Linked DNA regions of Homo sapiens. The protein of the gene in region 3 interacts with the protein of the main gene of each other region in a pairwise test. Each region holds a gene or a part of one and is shown on either strand. Other genes may lie near its edges.

Evidence for each region. The genes of interacting proteins can lie anywhere in the genome.
Region 1: the proteins of NUDT22 (region 3) and SAXO1 interact in binary tests that used the Homo sapiens proteins (3 or more experiments, as listed by UniProt).
Region 2: the proteins of NUDT22 (region 3) and ZNF143 interact in binary tests that used the Homo sapiens proteins (3 or more experiments, as listed by UniProt).

Annotation. Positions count from the first base shown.
Region 1 is NC_000009.12:19,029,852-19,037,505, reverse strand, and holds the start of SAXO1 (stabilizer of axonemal microtubules 1), read left to right. Parts: upstream 1-4,296; 5' UTR 4,297-4,597; coding exon 4,598-4,635; intron 4,636-7,654. UniProt on the Homo sapiens protein: May play a role in the regulation of cilium length. Stabilizes microtubules at low temperature.
Region 2 is NC_000011.10:9,463,571-9,471,369, reverse strand, and holds part of ZNF143 (zinc finger protein 143), read right to left. Parts: exon of another isoform or gene 7,500-7,799; intron 1,641-7,499; exon of another isoform or gene 1,448-1,640; intron 828-1,447; exon of another isoform or gene 732-827; intron 69-731; 5' UTR 65-68; coding exon of another isoform or gene 62-64; coding exon 1-61. UniProt on the Homo sapiens protein: Transcriptional activator. Activates the gene for selenocysteine tRNA (tRNAsec). Binds to the SPH motif of small nuclear RNA (snRNA) gene promoters. Participates in efficient U6 RNA polymerase III transcription via its interaction with CHD8.
Region 3 is NC_000011.10:64,222,111-64,229,869, reverse strand, and holds the start of NUDT22 (uridine diphosphate glucose pyrophosphatase NUDT22), read right to left. Parts: upstream 3,597-7,759; 5' UTR 3,446-3,596; coding exon of another isoform or gene 3,443-3,445; exon of another isoform or gene 3,236-3,442; coding exon of another isoform or gene 3,218-3,235; coding exon 2,738-3,217; intron 2,470-2,737; coding exon of another isoform or gene 2,377-2,469; intron 2,303-2,376; coding exon 2,204-2,302; intron 725-2,203; exon of another isoform or gene 624-724; coding exon 526-623; exon of another isoform or gene 393-525; coding exon 299-392; exon of another isoform or gene 21-298; coding exon 1-20. Other genes in the region: TRPT1 (tRNA 2'-phosphotransferase 1), read left to right, coding at 4,010-4,084, 4,290-4,371, 4,900-5,075, 5,153-5,327, 5,529-5,585, 5,660-5,770, 5,903-5,994; FERMT3 (fermitin family homolog 3 long isoform), read right to left, coding at 6,378-6,557, 6,681-6,822. UniProt on the Homo sapiens protein: Hydrolyzes UDP-glucose to glucose 1-phosphate and UMP and UDP-galactose to galactose 1-phosphate and UMP. Preferred substrate is UDP-glucose.

The sequences.
Region 1 (7,654 bases), on a different chromosome or scaffold from region 3:
TGAGACTTACTACCATGAGAACAGTATGGGGTAATCTGCTGTCATGATTCAAATTATCTCCCACTGGGTCCCTCCCACAACATGTGGGAATTATGGGAGTACAATTTAAGATGAGATATGGGTGGGGACACAGAGCCAAACCATATAGTTTCACCCCTGGTCCCTCCAAATCTCATGTCCTCACATTTCACAAAAAACATGCCTTCCCAACAGTCCCTCCAAAGTCTTAAGTCATTTCGGCATTAACCCGAAAGTCCACAGTCCAAAATTTCATCTGAGACAAGGCAAGTCCCTTCCACCTATGAACCTGTAAAATCAAAAGCAAGCTAGTTACTTCCTAGATAAAATGCGGATATAGGTACTGGGTAAATACAGCCATTCCAAATGGGAGAAATTGGGCAAAACAAAGGGGTTACAGTCCCCATGCAAGTCTGAAATCCAGCAGGGTAGTCAAATCTTAAAGCTCCAAAATGATCTCCTTTGACTCCATGTCTCACATCCAGGTCACGCTGAAGCAAGAGGTGAATTCCCATGGTCTTGGACAGCTCCTCCCCTGTGGCTTTCCAGGGTACCGCCTCCCTTCTGGATGTTTTCATGGGCTGGCAATGAGTGTCTGTGGCTTTACCAGGCACACAGTGCAATTTGTCGGTGGATCTCCCATTTTGGGGTCTGGAGGATGCTGGCCCTCTTCTCACAGCTCCACTAGGTGGTGCCCCAGTAGGGACATTTCCCTTTCACATTGCCCTAGCAGAGGTTCTCCATGAGAGTTCCAACCCTGCAGCAAACTTCTGCTTGGACATCCAGGCATTTCCATATATCCTCTGAAATCTAGGCGGAGATTCCCAAACCTCAATTCTTGACTTCTGTGCACTCACAGGCTTAACACCATGCGGAAGCTGCCAAGGCTTGGGGCTTGCATCCTCTGAAGCCATGGCCCAAGCTCTATGTTGGCCCCTTTCAGCCATGGCTGGAGCAGCTGGGATGCAGGGCACCAAGTCCCTAGGCTGGACACAGCATGGGGACCCTGGTCCCGGCCCATGAAACCATTTTCTCCTAGGCCTGCGGGCCTGTGATGGGAGGGGCTGCTGTGAAGATTTCTGACATGCCCAGGAGACATTTTCCCCATTGTCTTGGGGATTAACATTTGGCTACTTGTCACTTATGCAAATTTCTGCAGCCAGCTTGAATTTCTCCTCAGAAAACAGGTTTTTCTTTTCTTTTTTCTTTCTTTCTTTCTTTTTTTTTTTTTTTATTATACTTTAAGTTCTGGGGTACATGTGCAGAACGTGCAGGTTTGTTACATGGGTATACATGTGCCATGGTCGTTTGCTGCACCCATCAACCCATCATCTACATTAGGTATTTCTCCTAATGCTCTCCCTCCCCCAGCCCCCTACCCCCCGCCAGGCCCCAGTGTGTGATGTTCCCCTCCCTGTGTCCATGTGTTCTCATTGTTCAGCTCCCACTTATGAGTGAGAACATGTGGTGTTTGGTTTTCTGTTCTTGTGTTAGTTTGCTGAGAAGGTTTTTCTTTTCTATTGCATTGTCAGGATGCAAATTTTCCAAACTTTTGTGCTCTGCTTCCCTTATAAAACTGAATGCCTTTAACAGCACCCAAGTCACCTGTTAAATGCTTTGCTGCTTAGAAGTTTCGTCTGCCAGATACCCTAAATCATCTCCCTCAAGTTCAAACTTCCATAGATCTCTAGGACAGGGCAAAATGCCACCAGTCTCTTTGCTAAAACATAACAAGAATCACCTTGGATTCCATTCCCAACAAGTTCCTCATCTCTATCTGAGACCACCTCAGCCTGGACTTTATTGTCCATATCGCTATCAGCATTTTGGGCAAAGCCATTCAACAAGTCTCTAGGAAGTTCCAAATTTTCTCACATTTTCCTGTCTTCTTCGGAGCCCTCCAAACTGTTCCAACCTCTGCCTATTACCCAGTTCCAAAGTTGCTTCCTCATTTTTGGGTAACTTTTCAGCAGCATCCCACTCTGCTGGTACCAATTTACTGTATTAGTCCATTTTCATGCTGCTGATAAAGACATATCTGAGACTGGGAAGATAAAGCAGTTTAATTGGACTTACAGTTCCACATGGCTGGGGAGGTCTCAGAATCATGGTGGGAGGTGAAAGACCCTTCCTACATGGCGGGTGGCAAGAGAGAAAAATGAAGATAAAACCGTCAGATCTCATGAGACTTATTCTCTATCATAAGAGCAGTATGGGGGAAACCGCCCCCATGATTCAAATTATCTCCCACTGGGTCCCTCCCACAACATGTGGGAATTATGGGAGTACAATTCAAGATTAGATTTGGGTGGGGACACAGAACCAAACCATATCAGATGGGTCAGGGTAAGTTTGGCTGGATGTAACAAAAGATGGACAGTAAGTGTAACTAGGTGAGGGGAGGTTGTCCCTACTGTCTAGCACTGATCTTTAGGTATATCATTGTTGAGGCTATTTTGTCCACACCATCTTCATCTTTCAAGATCTCTACCCTCTATTGAGGGCATGGATGGAGGAAGTGGGGAGTACCATGATTGTTGACAAGGTGGCCACCCACAAGGGCAGTTTGAATGGCAGGGGGCATGAACAGGCATTCTTCTGCTGAAAGATTTATGGATAATGTTTAGGCAGCCATCAAGAGAAGGCTGGTGTCCAGCACTGTATTTCCTCTGTAAGGACTGTGTGATGTTCTCTGTCAATGGCAATGGATGGCATGCAGGTTTTGCTTTGACTTCCAATAGCTCCCACCTCTTTTTTGTCTGGCCATGTTTCCATCCTCCCCTGTAGAGTTCTGACTTCCTACTGGGAAGGCAAGGAGCAGCTTCCCACCCCACTGTTCTTAAGAATGATCAATAAGCTTTGCTCCTGTCTGAATCTACCTTGCTGACTTCCTATAACTGGGGTTGGAACTCTCTCTCTGTAAAATGTCAGATAGTGAATATTTTAGCTTTTGTGGGCCAAGAGGCAAAATCGGGAATGTTTACACAAATTTTTTGAAAAAATTCAAAACTTTATTCACAGACACTGAAATTTGAATTTTAGGTAAGTTTCATTTGTCATGTAATATTATTATTTTAATTTTTTCAACCATTAAAAAATATGAAAACCATTCTTAGCTCAATGGCCAGATAGAGTCAAGTGGCCAACTGCAGACAATAGTTTGCTGACCTCTATTCTAGAGCCTATTACTGAAGGAAAAAACCTAACCCCCCCCACACAAAAAGAAACCCTCTGAATATTAAGTGTCTTGCAGTCCAAGATGCCTCTGACTGACTCATTCACTAAAATGAATGGAAAGAGTTAGGAAGCATAGGAAAGAAAAGCATAAAGATTGTCAATACTTTAAGCTCCCATTTCCCATAAGCAGGAAGTCAAAATGTTTTAAGTCCAAACAACTGGCCAGAGCAGTGTCTTTTGAACTTGCTTCATGACCAGAATCACCTGGCTTCTTGTTGAAGCTAGATTCCCGGACTAGAGGTTTTGATGCAAGGGAGACTTCTGGGTGGGGGTGTGCTCTCGGGATCAGGTAAGCTGAAGAAACACTATTCCAGGGGGTGTAAAGGAACCTCAAAAGCTGTAGTTCTTAAAGTGTGGTCCGTGGCCCAGCAGAACCAGCATTACCTGAGAGCTTGTAAGAAATGCAAGTCTTTGGCCTACCCTAGAAACACTGAATCAGAAACTGGGGGTGGGGTCTGGCAATCTGGTTTTCATCAAGCCAGGTGGTCCTGATGCCAACTAGAATTTGAGAACGCCTGCTTCAAGGCATCATTACCAGCATCTGGAGAAGTGATTGAGAACCCACCTGAGCAGTGAAGGCCTGGGCGCTCTTAAACCACTGTGTTCTCAAGAGCGCAGGTCTGTGGGTGAGAGCAATTCTAACAGACATCTGAAGCCAAAGGCCTAGGTTTCCACAGGAAGATCTGGAAACCCTGTTCAAGGCAAGCCTTTTGGAAGTCAAGGCTGTATTCCCCTAAGAGGGGGCACCATGGATCCTAGAGATAGCAAATGCCACCCAAGGTGATGGTGAGGGAGTTTTCAGCTTTTCTGCACGTGTGACCGTTTACTGCACCAGGAGCTTTCTAGTGACTTCCACCTTTTTCAGGTTTTTCCAAGGTTCACCGGGGAACCCCTGTCCTGGGCCTGCCAGTGAGGTGCTGGGAGCTTCCCGACCTCACAAGCGGCTCTTGTGATGTAATTGCCACCTGAGGCGTGCCCCTCCTGGCCCTGGCGACATCACAGAGGCTACCTGGGCACGGACCCCGCAGCTTCCTGGGGCCCAGTCAGCCGCTCCAGGTGCTTAAGTCTGGACTGCGGAGGCCGGGGCGGTGGCGTGCAGGGTGAGGTCTCCCGGGCTGGCGCGCGTGCAAGCCCCCTGCTGCTACCTCGCGCTAGGCCAGCTCCAGGAGGGCAACAGACGACAGGACATTGCAAAAGGGCCACTTAAATTTTCCTTCGAGTAAACAGAACACCTGCCAAGACCCTCGAGCCTGGGCGTGCCCCAAGACAGGTGGTTGGGGTCTAGGAGTCGGCTGCAGCTGGCGATGCTCTGAGGGGACGTCAGGGCCTCAGGATCGCCCCTATGAAGACGAAGTGCATCTGTGAACTGTGCTCCTGCGGGTAAGGTGGCCACGCCCAGGGCAAGGCTGGGGGAGCCTGGGTTTTCAGACTCCCGAGGAAGGGAAGCCTCCCCCAGCTGCTTCATCAGGCGGCATCACGGTGGGTTCGTCCACTTGCTACGTTTTTTAAGCCACAATTGTGTCAACTAGCGTTGTGCCCGCGGACGCCACATCAGTTCTGGCGAATGTGGCTGTTTTCGGGCCTTCTGTGCCGCTTCACTTGAGAACTGCAGGAGGGTTGAAAATGGGCGTGACCGCGCAGTCTGCACTCCCTTCCCTGAAGCCCAGAAAGTGTCAGCCAAGGAGGGAGAACACCTGGCCCAGTGGGACCAGTCTTGCTCCTTTTGGGAAAGTGATAGGATGGGAGGAGAATTCCTGTAGTATAACTGAATTTCTCATTCAGAGAGATTGTTACTTTGTCAGAGAAGTATAAGGTATTAGTAAAACTTGTTCCACATTGTGTAGAGTTGAATAAGGATAATGAAAACATTACTTTCACAGTCGCCTGGCCTGCCAGGTCTCCCTTCTAACCTTTAAGGACCATCTTTGGGTGGAAGCGCAGTAAAGGTGGTCCTGGGGGAAATCATGGACTTTAGTCAGAGTCCCACGGGCTGACTGGTCTGCTGTCACTCACATGATCTCTTAGAGGCTCCTTCTATCTGCTTCCCAGGGCAGCTGGGTTTCTGCTTGGCTGGGGCAGGGAGTGGGCAGCAGAGGAGCAACAGGCAAGAGGGTTCTGAGGTCACCTTTCCTGGGCTGTCATTAATTGTGGGATCTTAGATTGGTAACTAAACTCCAGGTCATAGTCGCCTCATCTGTACCAACAATACGTACCTCATAGGACTATTGTAAGAGTTAAGATCATGTATGTGAGTCCTGGTACATGGATTGTGCTTAATATGTTAGTGTCCTGAAATCTGAAAAAAGGGCAAATATGACACATGCATATAAAAATGGTATCAGTAGTGTGGAGAATTAAAGGGCACTCTAAAAACTGGATCAGCAACCTTCTATATCTCTGGCATCAATAAATGGTTCCCAACTCTGGCTGCTGATTAGAATCACACAGGGAGTTTGAAAACTATCAGTTGCTCAGGCCGTTGAATTGATACTCTCAGAGTGGGCCCTGTCAACTGTCTAAAGGTGATTCTGGCCATTTGCTAGGACTGGGACTCACTGAACTAGATCATGTACAAACGTGGGTCTTGCTTTTGAGCTTTGTTAAGTGGGGCCAGAGCAGTGTATAGTCTAGGACTACATGTTACCAAGCAAAACCTTTTTTTCTAAGGCCGCCTTTCTTTTTTCTTTTTGGAGGCAGTGTCTTGCTCTGTTGCGCAGGCTGGAGTGCAGTGGTGCCATCTCGCTTCACTGCAACCTATGCCTCAGGGTTCAAGTGATTCTCCTGCCTCAGCCTCCTGAGTAGATGGGATTACAGGCACATGCCACCATGCCTGGCTAATTTTTGTATTTTTAGTAGAGACAGGGTTTCAACCATGTTGTCCAGGCTGGTTTTGAACTCCTGATCTCAGGTGATCGCCTGCCTCGGCCTCCCAAAGTGCTGGGATTACAGGCATGAGCCACTAAGGCCTTCTTTCTACTGGGATGCTTTACATTACCCTCCTGTGTCCTCCTGCATTGTTCTAGGCATTGGGATTGAATGTATAAGACATAGTCTCCATCTTTGCACAGCGTGCAGTCTAGGTAGGAAGGCAGAATGCTCATTAAGAGGTGCAGAGCATATATAGTGAGAAGTCTCCCTCCTGCCCCTGCAGTAGGGTTATGACTCATTTGGGTGTTCCTTCTCTGACTCTGTTCTCATTCTGTCCCTGCAAAGGAGTCACTTTCCATTGGAAGCAGAGTCTGTTCTTGTGTCTCTTCTCCTTTTCTTCTCTCCTCATCCTGTATTTTCTCCTCCATTTTATGGTTTCAGCCAATAGTTTCTCCTGTCTTCTGAATTCCAGTTTCATTTTCATCTTCTCAAAGTGCTTTGGTGATCCATCTGTCTCATTAATCTCAACTTCAACAACCTTCAAACATTATTCTGGTATCTGCCCCATTCATGGTGCCAGCAATCTTCCATTCACCCTGGGTGAAAATTTTGAATCATCTCTTACTCTCCCTCAAACAGAACATTGAATCTTTTTCTTCTTCTTATTTTTTTATTTTTTTTATTTTTTTGAGATGGAGTCTTACTCTGTCGTGCAGTGGCGCGATCTCTGCTCACTGCAACCTCCGCCTGCTGGGTTCAAACGATTCTCCTGCCCCAGCCTCCCAAGTAGCTGGGATTACAGGTACCCACCACCATGCTGGGCTAATTTTTGCATTTTTAGTAGAGATGGGGTTTCACCATGTTGGCCAGCTGGTCTTAAACTCCTGACCTCAAATGATCCACCTACCTTGGCCTCCAAAAGTGTTGGGATTACAGGCGTGAGCCACCGAGCCTGGCACATTGACTCTTTTCTAAAGTCTGGGTCCCTCCTCCATTGTAATCTTTCTTTAATTGGTCCCTTCCCTTTTATTCCGGTTACAACCTCCCTGGTTCTCTCATTTTTGTGTTTGGAAACTGGTCCTAAATTACCTTCCTAGTTTTTTTTTCTCCCATGATTCCCTTACATGAAACTACACCTTGAATTGGATCAGGTTTCTTGGCATCCCCTGAGTGGACCTGCTGATGTCCCTTTTCTGATCCTTATCCTTTCCCTTTCTCTAAAATACCTATGTTCCCTCCTCCTGCTGGACTTGTAAGGCCCGGTTTCACTTGCAAGTTCCCTGTTAACCCAGCCCTGTGGCTCCCCATCAAAGAAAAACCCCGCTCCGTGTTCTCATCCTCTATGCATCAGCATGCTTTATATCCTCGATTAATTATATGTACGCTGGGAAAACAGATATTTTCTATTTTTGTGTGTGCACTGTATCATAGCAACACAGTTTTCTTTATTAACAGCTAACACATATCTTTTTGAATGAATGGATGGCGTTTTTTGTTTGTCAAGGTCATAACATGCTGGACTGGGTTAGGA
Region 2 (7,799 bases), about 55 Mb from region 3:
TCCCTCCTCCAGGAAACTCTGTCATTCCCTGAGAATCTCGATTTATTTGGGCTAACAACATCTTCTACCTTGAAGAAAAATAAAGACACTTGGGAACAAAGAATGATACATGTGAAATGAAAGTTACAAAGAATATTTATGAACCACAAAAAGCTGCTGAGGATGTAATGGTGTTGGAAATAAGATGAAATTTCACTCAATATGTAGGGTAAGAGTATTAGCCCAAAGTCCAAGGCATGCTTCTTATAATTCAACAATTCAAACTGATGGGCACAATTTGTCAGTGCGCTTAGCAACTTAGAAGTACACTGACGAATTGTGCCCATCAGTTTCATATGATCTCTAGAATTCCCATAATTAGAGTCCTTTGGGTTTAGCATTGCTGAGGATTCCCACTTACAATGTGTCAGCATATTTTGTTGACTTAATCTTCAGAAATCTACCCCGAATCTGGCTACCTCTCACAACCTTCACCAGTACTTCCCTGATCTAAGCCACAACCAGTCTCTCACCTGCATTACTATAACAGCATCCTAACTTATTTCCCTGCTTCTCCATTAGCCTCCTACACTCTTCTTTTGACACAGCGGTCAGTGTCCTTTGAAGGGAAAAGTTAGCTCATGTCCCGCTTCTGCTCAAAACCTTCTGAGGACTTTCTCAGAGTAAAATCCCCAAATCCTTACACTGATCAATGAGGCCAATGATCTTGCCCCTCATTTCCTACTACTCACCATCTCATTCACTCCACTTCAGCCACATTGGCATTTTCCTCAAGCATATTGGATGTTCTGCTGCCTTAGAACGTGTTCATTTGAGTTTCCTTCTGCCTGAAACATTGTCCCCAGTATCTTCATTATTCATTCCCTACCCTCTTCAAGTCTTTGCTCAAATGGAATGAGAGCTTCCCTGTCCATCCCATTTCAAACTGCACCTCCCAACTGCTCAATCATGGTAAACCCCATCCTTCTTTTCCCCTCCATGTTTCTGCACAGTACTTATTATTTAACAAATTACATGTATTTATGTATTTAGTTTATCTATTTCCCCTTCCATGAGAATGGACAGAGACTTCTGTTTGTTTGCTCACTGCTGACTCTAGTGCCTAGAAAGTGCTTGGCCCATAGTAGAAGTACAATAGGTACAGAATAAATGGATGAATGGGCAACTCTTCTACCAATCACCAACACAACCTCCTTCTTCCCTTCTACCTCCAGGTCTCCTTACCTCTGTGGACCATGGCTTATCTCAAACAGTAGCTGGGATAATGTAGCTGCCTTGGGACAGGGAACTGAACCAGAAGATGTCTTGAGGACCTTTCCAGGTCCAAAGATCTGACTTAGCATCAATATTTAAAAGAGCAATACACAGATAGTAGTAATAATTTGTAATTCTTTTTACGTTTAGGATTGCTTGAAGAATTTTGTCTTGGAAATACTATAAACTGTACCTTCATTAGACCAAAAGTGGGAACTACTGTTCAGATACACAAAAAGGTATCAGTGCCATGATAACTGTCAGTCAAGGCTGGGTGCAGTGGCTCACACCTGGATTCACAGCACTCTGAAAGGCCAAAGCAGGTGGATCACCTGAGGTCAGGAGTTCGAGACCAGCCTGGTCAACATGGTGAAACCCTGTCTCTACTAAAAATATTAACAAATTAGCTGGATGTGGTGGCACGCACATTTAAAGAAAAAGTCAAGGGGTGACCTTTTAGGTACAAAAGGATCCATAATCTATAACTGTTCATAGAACAAGCTGAAACGTCATTTCCTTGGCACCTCCAAAAGCTGGCAGAGAAGACTCAAAGTAACACCAGTACCCTACTGTTAAGACCTGTGGGCTGCACGCGGTGGCTCATGCCTGTAATCCCAGCACTTTGGGAGGCCAGGGTGGGTGGATCACCTGAGGTCAGGAGTTCCATATCAGCCTGACCAACAAGGTGAAACCCCGTCACTACTAAAAATACAAAAATTAGCTGGGAGTGGTGGTGCACGCCTGTAATCCCAGCTACTTGGGAGGCTGAGGCAGGAAAACTGCCTGAACCCGGGAGGTGGAGGTTGCAGTGAGCCGAGATCACAACATTGCACTCCAAGCTGGGCAACAAGAGCGAAACTCCGTATGGGGGGGTGGTAAAAAAAAAAAAAAAAAAAAAAAGACCCCTGCTGAGAATAAAATTAGCATAGGCTAATTTTCAGTTACAAAAAGACAAATACTGCATTACTCTACTTTTTTTTTTTTGAGATGGCATCTCACTGTAGCCGAGGCTAGAGTGCAATGGCGTGATCTCAGATCACTGCAACCTCCACCTCCCAGGTTCAAGTGATTCTCATGCCTCAGCCTCCCGAGTAACTGGGATTACAGGTACGTGCCACCACACCTGGCTCATTTTTGTATTTTTAGTAGAGGTGGGGTTTCACCATGTTGGCCAGGCTGGTCTCGAACTTCTGACCTCAAGTGATCTGCATGCCTCAGCCTCCCAAAGTACTGGGATTACAGGTGTGAGCCACCGTGCCCAGAAAATATATGATATATGAAAGTCGAGTCTCACTCTGTCACCCAGGCTGGACTGCAGTGGCAGGACCCTGCAACCTCAAATTCTTGGGCTCATGTGATCCTCCTGCCTCAGCCTCCTGAGTAGCTGGGATTATAGGCATAAGCCACACCCAGCCTTGAGTTATATTTAAATATAGCCAGAGTGTAAGCATGTTCCATTAATTAAATATAATTCAGTGAAGTAAAAAGTAATTAGAACGTGCTAGCAAATGAGATAGAGTTCTCGCAGACTCCATATGATGCTAAGGGTTAAAGTATGGGCAAAGAGTTCATACTGCCAATTCTAATTGGGGCAGAATATCCTATTGGATAGGTGAAATGTTGAAACTTGAAGGCTTTGTGCAGTTCCAGGACTATTCAAAAACTGAATATATGAAACTGACTGGCAGGTAGGTAGAGCCTGATACCTTTGAAGTGACAACAGAGATAGGACCTACTAGGCTTAAAGCTAAAAATACCTGTCAGGAAAGAGCTGAGAGCAGAGACAAGAATTTAGAAATGAACATCTAGGTCTAGTCATTAGGTATCCCCATTTTGGTGATGGTTTGATCTCAACTGAACTATTGATGTGAAAAAGAACAAAAAACACCTCTCTTAAACTTCAATAAAGTAGCACTAATGGACATGGTTTAATAAGGGCACTCCATGCACAGAGCAGTTTGGTAAGCATGCCCTGGATTGCTTTCAGCAAAACTAGGGAATATGAGGAACAGATGCAGCAGAGAAAAGAAAGAGATTCTGACATATTCCAAACACCATTTCTGATGCTGCTCTGTTAAAAAGCATGTTATTTCAAAATTACAATGCCAGACTGTACGTTATTACCCCCAAGAGGAACACTGTATATGCTACTATTTTATCACCCAAATTGCTCATCGTGACATAGGTAAGGAAAGCAAAGCATCATTAGATAATTGTGAAAATTATAGAAGGAATTCCTGACAGACAACTTTTTTTTTTTTTTTTTTTTTGGAGATGGAGTCTCACTCTTGTCGCCCAGGCCAGAGTGCAGTGGCGCCATCTCAGCTCACTGTAACTTCCACCTCCCAAGTTCAAGCAGTTCTGTCTCAGCCTCCTGAGTAACTGGGATTACAGGCGCACACCACCATGCCCAGGTAATTTTTTGTATTTTTAGTAGAGAAGGGTTTTCACCATGCTGGCCAGGCGGGTCTTGAACTCCTGACCTCATGATCCACCCGCCTCAGCTTCCCAAAGTGCTGGGATTAAAGGCACGAGCCATTGCGCCAGCCAGCCATGATTTTCACCCTTTAAAATTTTTCTTGTTGGGCATGGTGGCTCACACCTATAATCCCAGCACTTTGAAAGGCTGAGGCGGGTGGATCACCTGAAGTCAGGAGTTTGAGAACAGCCCGGACAACATGACAAAACCCTGTCTCTACTAAAAATATAAGAAAATCAGCCGGGTATGGTGGCGGGTGCCTATAATCCCAGCTACTCCCAGCTGAGGCAGGAGAATCACTTGAACCCGGAGGGTGGAGGCAGCAGTGAGCCAAGATGGTGCCACTGCACTCCAGCCTGAGCTACAGAGTAAAACTCTATCTCAAAAAAAAAAAAAAAACACTTTCCTTTTTCATCCCCTCACTTAAGAGTATTACACATAGTTGGCCAGGGCGCAGTGGCTCACTCCTGTAATCCCAGCACTTTGGGAGGCCAAGGCGGGTGGATCACGAGGTCAGGAGATTGAGAGCATCCTGGCTAACACGGTGAAACCCCGTCTCTACTAAAAAATACAAAAAATTAACCAGGCGGTGGCATGCACCTGTAGTCCCAGCTACTCCGGAGGCTGAGGCAGGAGAATGGCGTGAACCCGGGAGGCAGAGCTTGCAGTGAGCCGAGATCGCGCCACTGCACTCCAGCCTGGGTGACACAGAGAGACTCTGTGTCAAAAAAACACACACACACACACAAAAAAAAACCAGAGTATTACTCTATTGTAATATTTAAAAGTATTACAATAATATCTTTACTGCTCTCTGCACCATATTCTCATCGTTTCAGTCTAAAAACAGTCAGCTATTTTATTGTGTTTTGTAGACCATTAAAATTTTCCTTGCAGGCTGGGCATGATGGCTCACACCTGTAACTGCAGCACTTGGGGAGGCCAAGGAGGGAAGACGGCTTGAGGCCAGGAGTTCAAGACCAGCCTGGGCAACACAGTGAAACCCTGTCTCTACGGAAAATAAAAAAAAGGAAAAAATTATGCCGGGAGTGGTGGCTCACATCTGTAATCCCAGCACTTTGGGAGGCTGAGGTGGGTGGATCACCTGAGGTCAGGAGTTCGAGACCACCCTGGCCAACATGGTGAAACCCAGTCACTACTAAAAATACAAAAATTAGCCAGGCGTGGTGGCAGACGCCTGTAATCCCAGCTACTAGGGAGGCTGAAGCAGGAGAATCGCTTGAATCCGGGAGACGTAGGTTGCAGTGAGCCGAGATCACATCATTGCACTCCAGCCTGGGCAACAAGAGCAAGACTCCATCTCAAAAAAAAAGAAAAGAAAAGAAAAAAATTAGGCTGCGCATGGTGGCTCACGTCTGTAATCCCAGCACTCTGGGAGGCTGAGATGGGTGGATCACCTAAGGTCAGGAGTTCAAGACCAGCCTGGCCAACATGGTGAAACCCTGTCTCTACTAAAAATACAAAAATTAGCCAGATGTGGTGGCAGGTGCCTGTAATCCCAGATACTCAGGATGCTGAGGAAGGAGAATCACTTGAGCCTGGGAGCTGGAGGTTGCAGTGAGCCGAGATCTAGCCACTGCACTCCAGCCTGGGTGAACTCCCTCTCAAAAAAAAAAAAAATTAGCCAGACATGGTAGCTTGGACCTGTAATACCAAGCCACTTGGGAGGCTGAGGAGAAGGGAGGATCACTTGGGCCTGGGAGGTAGAGGCTGCAGTGAGCTGTGATTGTGCCACTGTACTCCTGCCTGGGAAACAGAGAGAAATCCTCCCAAAAGCAAAAAAAGAAAACAAACAAACAAACAAAAAACAAAAAACTTTTCCTTGCATACAATATTGTAATATAAATTTAAAACTTATAATAATAAGTCCTTTGGGAGGCCAAGACGGGCAGATTATGAGGTCAGGTGAAACCCCGTCTCTACCAAAAATACAAAAAAAAAAAAAAAAATTAGCCAGGCGTGGTGGCGGGCGCCTATAGTCCCAGCTACTAGGGAGGCTGAGGCAGGAGAATGGTGTGAACCTGGGAGGCAGAGCTTGCAGAGAGCCGAGATCACGCCACTGCACTCCAGCCTGGGCGACAGAGTGAGACTCCATTTCAGAAAAAATAAATAAATAAATAAATAAAAGTACCAGCCAGGCACGGTGGCTTGCACCTGTAATCCCAGCACTCTGGGAGCCAAGGCAGGCGGATCACAAGGTCAGGAGTTCAAGACCAGCCTGGCCAACATGGTGAAACCCCGTCTCTACTAAAAATAAAAAAATTAGCTGGGCATGGTGGCGTGCTTCTGTAATCCCAGCTACTTGGGAGGCTGAGGCAGGGGAATCACTTGAACCCGGGAGGCGGAGGTTGCAGTGAGCTGAGATCGCACCACTGCACTCCAGCCTGGGTGACAGAGTAAGACTCCGTCTCAAAACAAATAAAATAAATAAAAAAAATAGTAAGTCCCAATAGCTTAACAAATCAAACATTTTCAGTTTTCCTGGTTTTATTCTCTAGCCCTTGCTATCCACATACATACAAAATTTTTACAGCATTGTAATTATCATATACATAACATTTTGTATTCAGCTTTTTTTATTCCTATAAATTTTCCTAAGTTGTCAAAAATTCTTCACAATGATCACTTTTAATTCACATTTAACAAATTAATTACCCTTATAGGCCATTTAGCATTATTATTATTTTTTTTTTGAGACAGAGTCTCCCTCTGTCGCCCAGGCTGGAATACAGTGACGCGATCTCGTCTCACTGCAACCTCTGCCTCCTGGGTTCAAGCAATTCCCCTGCCTCAGCCTCCTGAGTAGCTGGGATTACAGGTGCCCGCCACCATGCCCAGCTAATTTTTTGTATTTTTTTAGTAGAGACGGGATTTCACCATGTTGGTCGGGCTCATCTTGAACTCCTGACCTCGTGATCCACCCACCTCGGCCTCCCAAAGTGCTGGGATTACAGGCGTGAGCATTATTCTTATTATGTAATTAACACACACCATTGATTGATTGATTGATTGATTGAGACAGGGTCTTGTTCTGTCCCCCAGGCTGGAGTGCAGTGGTGCAATCTCAGCTCACTGCAACCTCCACCTCCCAGGTTCAAGAGATTCTCCTGCCTCAGCCTCCCGAGTAGCTGGGATTAAAGGCATGGGCCACCCCACCTGGCTAATTTTTGTATTTTTAGTAGAGACAGGGTTTCACCATGTTGGCCAGGCTGGTCTCAAATTCCTGACCTCAGGAGATCCACCTGCCTCAGCCTCCCAAAGTACTGGGATTATAGGCGTGAGCCACCACGCCTGGCCTACAAACGTTTTTCTAAAAATTAGCTGGGCATTGTGGCGTGCACCTGTAGTCCTAGCTACTCTGGAGTCTGAGGTGGGAGGATCACTTGTGCCAGGGAGGTTGAGGCTGCAGTGAGCTGAGATCATGCCACTGCACTCCAGTCTGGGTGAGAGTGAGACCCTGTCTCTTAAAAAAAATGGATTTTTAATATCTATACACAAATACACACACACACACACACACACACACACAAACACACACACACGACATCCCTAAATGAAACATGTAGGCATTTAAAAGAATGAGATCTATCTATCTGAAACAGTGAGAAACATGTCCAAGATATATGGTAAGTGGGAAAAAGCAAGTTGCAGAAAAGTAGATACCATATGATTGCATTCATTTATTTAAAAATGTATATAGTTATCTGTATATGCTTGTATGAACATTTAAAAATTCAGTGCTTACCTTCCAGAAATGGAACTATGCTATGAGGGTGGAGTGGTTTTTTATTTTAAAAATAAAACCATGTAGTAGAGGCACAGTTCAATGCAGCCATGCCACGTTTCTGTGAAGAACACAACCAGTCCTTACTTCACAGCAACATTCCAACACACAGCAAAGGACTATGGACATTTTGCAAACCATGTATCTGATAAGGGACTTCTATCTAGAACATATAAAGTACTCTCACAACCAAATCATAATAAGACGAATAATCCAACTTTAAAATGGGTAAAGAATTCAAACAGACATTTCTCCAATGAT
Region 3 (7,759 bases):
TCGAGCAATCTCTGCACGTTCTGTGGGGAGACAACGAGACCCAGGCATTCAAGCTTGCCACTTCTCCTGCCAGGGCTGTGCCCAGAATTCCTGAGCCTCAGAGACCTCTGCACTGTCCTTAGGGAGGCATGTTAAGGGGCTGAACATGTCCCTGGACCTTTCCCTTGCACTGAGGGCAAATCTTGTGACTCTGGAGGGAATTGTGACCCAGCCAACACCTCCCCTACAAGATATGCATTGCCAGGCCTCTGCAGGCCCCAGCCCTGGCCTCCAAGCAAGATGGTTTGTCACTCTGCACCTGTGTCTCCACAAAGAAGATTCCTGTAGACTCGTGGGCCTCGGGTCCCCCACTCAGGTAGTGCTTCCTCACCTGCTCAGAAGTCAGGCTGCACCTGGACAAGAACACAAGGGTGGCTTAGTGGGTGACCAGCCCCTGCGGGGTACCTGTGGAGCCACAGCTGCCTCAGCCCACTCCTCACCACCCACCTTCCCAAGACCCAGGATCATGTACCCGAGCCTACTCACTGGACATAGAACTCGGCACTGGCTCGGCCAGCACTGGTCTCATTTCGGGCGATGCCCAACAGCAGGGGCTGGCTCAGGGTGAGCAGCGGCAGGTTCACCTGCGGTGGAGGGTGGGGTGGGGGGAGGTCCCACCTATCAATGCCACTGCCCACATCCCTGCCCGTCTCAATGAAAAACCGCCTGTTACCTGTGTACAGCATTTTATAGCTTGTAGATCAAGGACCCAGCATTACAGAATGTCAGATGATGGGCATGTTTGTTTTACAGGTACACCAAAACCAGAGAGATTGAACACGTTGCCCAAGGTCACCCAAGAGAAGTCAATTTAGTGACTGGGACTCCCACTTACTCCTTTTTCTTTTTTTCTTTTTTTGAGATGGAGTCTCGCTCTGTCGCCCAGGCTGGAGTACAGTGGCACGATCTCAGCTCACTGCAACCTCTGCCTCCCAGGTTAAAGTGATTCTCCTGCCTCAGCCTCCTGAGTAGCTGGGATTACAGGTGCACGCCACAACGCCTGGCTAATTTTTTGTATTTTTAGTAGAGATGGGGTTTCTCCATGTTGGCCAGGCTGGTCTCGAACTCCTGACCTCAGGTGATCCGCTGGCCTTGGCCTCCCAAAGTGCTGGGATTACAGGTGTGAGCCACCACACCCTGCCACACTTACTCCTTTTTCTTTTTTTTGAGACGGAGTCTCGCTTTGTCGCCCAGGCTGAAGTGCAGTGGCGCGATTTCGGCTCACTGCAACCTCCGCCTCCCGGGTTCACGCCATTCTCCTGCCTCAGCCTCCTGAGTAGCTGGGACTACAGGTGCCCGCCACCACGCCCGGCTAACTTTTGGTATTTTTAGTAAAGTCAGGGTTTCACCGTGTTAGCCAGGATGGTCTTGATCTCCTGACCTTGTGATCTGCCCACCTCAGCCTCCCAAAGTGCTGGGATTACAGGCATGAGCCACGGCGCCCGGCCACTTACTCCTTTTTCAACAGACTTGGGGAGTAGGCAAGATATTTATCATTGTTTCCATTGAAAAGAAGAATCCTTGGCGGGGCAAGGCATGAGAATCACTTGAACCCAGGAGGCGAAGGTTGCAGTGAGCCGATATGCCACCACTGCACTAGCCTGGGCAACAGAGCAAGACTCTGTCTCAAAAAGAAAAAAAAAAAAAAGAAGAAGAATCCGGCCTGGTGCAGTGGCTCACACCTGTAATCCCAGCACTTTTGGAGGCTGAGGCAGGCAGATCACGAGGTCAGGAGATCAAGACCATCCTGGCTAACAAGGTGAAACCCCATCTCTACTAAAAATACAAAAAAAATTAGCCAGGCATGGTGGCGGATGCCTGTAGTCCCAGCTACTCAGGAGGCTGAGGTAGGAGAATGGCGTGAACCCGGGAGGTGGAGCTTGCAGTGAGCAGAGATCGTGCCACTGCATTCCAGCCTGGGCAACAGAGCGAGACTCTGTCTAAAAAAAAAAAAAGAAAGAAAAAAGAAAAGAAGAAGAATCCAAGGCAGAGGGTACTGAGGGCTAGAATTCCACTCCAAGTATGTATAGCTGCAAAGCCAACTTCTTCCCTCATTGCTGGCCAGATGCCTGCAGGCCTCCTGCCAGCCCAGACCTGTAGAATTCTGGCAAGTCCTACCCCCTCCCTTCATGTCTACCACCCTGTCCAGGTCAACCTCACTCACCTCATCACAGATCTCCTGAAGGACACTGGAAAAGAGTTCATGTACCACCAGCTGCCCAGCGAGGTCCTGGTGCTGGGGGCTGCCACCAGGGCACAGGGCCTGTGAGAGGTCAGGCTCAGCCCCTGCTCCCCACCTCTTCCCCCTGCCCCATCTCAGGACCAGCAAGCCTATACCTGCTGGCCTTGAGGGTCTGATGTGGCACAGTGTAAGAGAGTTAGTGATCCTGAGTCTGGTGTCCTTTCCCTGACAGACAACCAGAGGTCCAGCTTCAAAGGAGATACACAGGGGGCAGGGGTGGAGTAGGGCATCTTCTTCCTGTGCCCAATCTTTCCTCCCGTGTTTTCTAGTTTCTCACAGGACTGGGGCAGGGGTCAGTGGGGAGGCAGGTGGACTGCCCTGAGCAAACTTCCAGAGAAATACCAGGCCAATTTTCCCTTTAAGGAATGAGGAAACCAAAGCTGGGAGGATTGGGAGGGTGGAGAGCTGCAGCTCCCTTGAGCTGTCTGGGTCTTTGTGCCCAGCCTGGAATCTCACCTGAGGCTCAGGGTGCCCACCAGGTACGTCCACCAGCCCAGGGGCCTCAGCCACCTGCCGGGAGCGGCGCAGGAAGACAAGGAAGTCATCGGCTGTGGCTAGTGCAGCGCCCACCCCCAGTGGGTCCGCCAGATAGGCCTGCGTGTCACCCCAGTCGGTGGCACCCTGCTGTCGCAGCCAGGCAGCTGAGCTGGACCAGTTGGTGCCCAGGAAGTCTCGGTAGGAAGTAAGGCCCAGGCGCAGGAGCAGCTGTGGCCCCCGAGAGCCAATAGGCGCCAGGGTGGCTGAGTGCAGGCGGAACTTGGGGGCGTCGAAGAGCCAGGGTTGGGCCTTTAGCCGGGTCTCCCAGATGGCAGTGATGGCCTCGTCCCCACCTGGCAGTGGGCGACGGTCATGGGCGGGGCTCAGCTCGGCCTGTATCTGCTCCTGGGGCAGGCCCCCGCCAGGGCACTGCAGCAGCAAGGTCACCTCAGGATCCATGGTCTGAACGGGGCAGCTCTGGGGGAGGATACGGCCAGGCCTGTCATCCAGGGGGGCCACTACCACTCCTGGGCTGCGCAGCTAGCCCCCTCTGTCGCAGACCTCCTGAGGGTATCCGCAGCGCTTCTCCACCCCCCTGACCACTCCTTGGGCAGTAAAACGTGCCATCTTCCCCGCAGGAGCCCCGAGTCCCGCAGGGTATCCAGGACGCCCGGGCATCCCTACCATCCAGAGGTCTTGGGTTCAGGCGCCCCAAATGCCCATGTCCCCCAAACCCAGGGGTCTGCCTCCGACCCGGGGCGCGCGGGGACCCCTTTCCAGGGCCCGGAAGCTCCAGCCTCCAGCGGGCGCTCACCAGCCGCCGGGTCCCTCAGGCTCCGCCCCTTCCCCGAAGCGGAAGTGCCCGCCCCCTTTCCACGCGGCTTTTCATTGGCGGGTCCGCCGCGGTCGAGGATCCTGGAGGTTTGTCCCCGCCGCCCCGACGCTTCCGCCCGGTCCGTCGGCACGTCGGCCCTGCCTCCCGGACCACCCTGCGGGGCGCACCAGCGATCTGGGGTGCGGGGCTCGGCCTCCCTGCGCTCCTGGCTGACCGTGTGACCTTGGGCAAGTCTGGCCTGCTGGGCCTTAGTTTCCCTCTCTGCAGCAGGGACTTGGGGGTGGTGAACTTAATGAGCCGTATACTCCCACCCAGCGCTCACTTCCTGAGGCTTTGTGACTTTCTGGGAGGGATGGGGACGTGGAAGGGGCCTTAAAGCAGTCCCCCCTCGTCACTGCCCCCCACAGGTCTTAACCATGAACTTCTCTGGAGGAGGGAGGCAGGAAGCAGCAGGGTCCAGGGGTAGAAGGGCTCCCAGACCCCGAGAACAGGTGCGCGCCTCCTCCCCACCCCCTCCCACCAGTCCAGGCTCCCTGGGAGTTGCTGGGGGGCGGAGCTGAAGGGTCCTACTATTCCTGGAGACCACTGGCACTCCTTTCTCTCTGGGCTCTCTCTGCAGTGGGTCATTGAGGGTTCAGGATGGGCAGTAGGGCAGGGTCACCATGGAGACTAGGGGCCACCGCTGGGTTCTTTCAGGACCGAGACGTGCAGCTGTCCAAGGCTCTGTCCTATGCCCTGCGCCATGGGGCCTTGAAGCTGGGGCTTCCCATGGGAGCTGGTAAGTAGGGGCCTTGGAGGCTGGGGCTTGAGCCCAGAGAGAAACGTGAGCCTGTCTGCGACTCCTCCCTGATGGCTGCCTCCACCGCTCCCTGAGGAAGGCACAGAGTGCACTTCCTCCCCATGCACAGAGGAGAGCAAGGCCTAGAGCCCCTGTCATGTCCACAGCAGACTGAGGAGAGTTCTTGTCTGGGCCAGGCCTGGTGACCGCCCCCTCCAGCCAAGCAGCCAGATCAGCACTTACCCCGAGGGCGAGCCCTGGAGGATACGGTGCAGCTGGTGGTGTGAGTGTGCACTCCGGGCCAGCGCTATGCTGGGCACTCACCTCCCTGCCCCTCCGTGAGGCAGATCCTCTTTTTATGTAAGTTGAAAAAACTGCGGCCCAGAAAGGGGAGACTTTCTAAAGGTCCCACAGAGGATGCCCAAGCGATCTCCAAGCCCAGACTTTGTTTCGGTTGCCTGTGGCTCCCTGTTAACCCTGGCCCAGTCCAGAGCAAGGTTAGCTCCTGAGCACCCTGCCTGCCCACAGATGGCTTCGTGCCCCTGGGCACCCTCCTGCAGTTGCCCCAGTTCCGCGGCTTCTCTGCTGAAGATGTGCAGCGCGTGGTGGACACCAATAGGAAGCAGCGGTTCGCCCTGCAGCTGGGGGATCCCAGCACTGGCCTTCTCATCCGGGCCAACCAGGGCCATTCCCTGCAGGTCGGGGTGAGGGGACAAGTGCGAGACGAGATGGGAGGGACCCCTGCCTGCGAAGGGGGTCTCACTGCTACCCGTTCAACCAGGTACCTAAGTTGGAGCTGATGCCCCTGGAGACACCGCAGGCCCTGCCCCCGATGCTAGTCCATGGTACATTCTGGAAGCACTGGCCATCCATCCTACTCAAAGGCCTGTCCTGCCAGGGAAGGACGCACATTCACCTGGCCCCAGGACTGCCTGGAGACCCCGGTATCATCAGTGGTCAGTGCCCTCCCCTCCACCTAGCTACTCCCACCCACTCTGTCCTCCCAGGTCCCCTTCAAAGGTTACAACACTTGTCTGGGGCCACCCCATGTCCGGCATGGAGCAGCACCCCTGCATCCCCCAGCCCAGGACCCCAGTCTGCCTAGGTTGCTGACTGCACTCCAGGTGCCCAGGCCTCAGCTCCAGCTGTCTCTGCAGGCATGCGGTCCCATTGTGAAATAGCTGTGTTCATCGATGGACCCCTGGCTCTGGCAGGTGAGTCTGGACAAAGCAGGAGCTGCCCTTGCCTTCGGGGAGGGCATGAGTCACATCTCTGGCTCTGTCAGCAGATGGAATACCCTTCTTCCGCTCTGCCAATGGGGTGATTCTGACTCCAGGGAATACTGATGGCTTCCTCCTTCCCAAGTACTTCAAGGAGGCCCTGCAGCTACGCCCTACCCGTGAGAACCACCACCCCAGCCCCTATTCCTTGTTCCTGAAAGCTGTGCCCTTCTGCCCTCACCTCTCTCCTAGCTTCCAACCCTAGACTGACTTAGGTGTCCCTTTCTCTAACCAACTCTTGTCTTTATCAGGAAAGCCCCTTTCCTTGGCTGGTGATGAAGAGACAGAGTGTCAGAGTAGCCCCAAGCACAGCTCCAGAGAAAGGAGGAGGATCCAACAATAAAATATTAATTTATAAAAAAGAAATTTTAAAAAGTAACAAGAAAGAACTCGTTTGAAACCATGTTTCATCATCCTGTAGCTACATCTGGTCTTCCTTGTGTGCTGGGGGACTGCAGATAGGTCAGGGGTATCAGCCTCAGCCACTCAGACAAGGAAAGGGGGCACCACATGAGCTCAGGGACCCCCACCCCCATCCCTGGCCTGGGTGATGGTACAGCGTCTGGCCCTGCCAGGTCCTTGGCCTGCACAAAGTCAGTGACAGCAGGTGAAATGCCCAGCTGGGTGCCTGCCTGGAGCGGGTGTGGGGCAGTGAGCCCCTGTGGGTGTGGGCTTGGGAGTGGCTGTGACAGGGTGGTGAGCAGGGCAGGGGCAATCAGACAGCCCTCAGAAGGCCTCATGGCCCCCGGTGAGCTGCAGGAAGAGGTCTTCATCCAGCTCCTCCCCACGGGCCCGCTCCCGCGTCGACAGGAAAATGTAGCCCCCGATATACTCGTGTACAATTCGGCAGCTGGCAGACACGCAGCTGAAGGCCACATTGATGTGTTCATCAAACTCGATGGCCACCTGAAGGGCAGACAGAGGGGCAAATGGTGGGTGGGATAAGGGAGCAGCCCCTGCCCCACCCTGGCTGGATCCAGCTCCGGCCTGCACCTGTCCCCCATCCATATACCCTGGGTCTGGGCCCACCTGCCGGATGTCCCAGTTGACATTCCACTGGCGCATGTTGCTGAAACGCCAGGTCTTGACCACGTCGCCCACGGCCAAGTCGATGCGGATCAGTCGGTTGTTGGCGATGCCCAGGATCTCGTCTTTCCTGCTGCCCTTGAACCTGGCCCCCAGGGAGAGAGAGTGAGCCAGGGCTCCACCCTGCATGGCCAGAGCCCGCCCAGACAATGTGGCGCCGTGCTGGAGAGCCAGCCCTTCCCGACTGCAGCTCACCAGCTGTGTAACCCTGAGCAAGCCATTTGGGTTCCCTGGGCCTCAAGTTCCTCATCTGGTAAATGGGGGTTAATTGATAAAATCCCCACAACAGCATTTAGCAGCATCGGGCAAACAGGCCAAGCCTTTAAATGGTAACTTTTTTTGGTTTTTGTTACCATCCTCATCAACTGCTGTCTCCCTCCCTTCTTTGCAGTCTTGGGAAACAACTAATCAAAGGGGCCCACTCCCCATAACAGCATCCACCGCTAGCCCTGTCTTGCGGACCGGCGAACCCAGGCCCAGACAGTGAACTGTCCACAGCAGAGCTGGAGCAAGAACTGGTTCTTCTGCTCTCCTGACCTGAAATCTCTTTTTTTTTTTTTTTTTTTTTTGAGACGGAGTGTCGCTTTGTTGCCAGGCTGGAGTACAGTGGCTCGATCTCGGCTCACTGCAACCTCCGCCTCCCGGGTTCAAGTGATTCTCCTGTCTCAGCCTCCCGAGTACATGGGATTACAGGTACGTGCCACCACTTGTGGCTGATTTTTGTGTTTTTAGTAGAGACGGGGTTTCACCATGTTGGTCAGGCTGGTCTCGAACTCCTGACCTCATGATCTGCCTGCCTTGGCCTCCCAAAGTGCTGGGATTACAGGCATGAGCCATCGCGCAGGCTCTTTTATTTATTTATTTATTTATTTATTTATTTATTTATTTATTTGAGACTGAGTCTCACTCGTTCGCACCCAGGCTGGAGTGCAGTGGCACAATCTCGGCTCACTGCAACCTCCACCTCCCGAGTTCAAGACATTCTCCTGCCTCAGCCTCCCGAGTAGCTGGGATTATAGGCG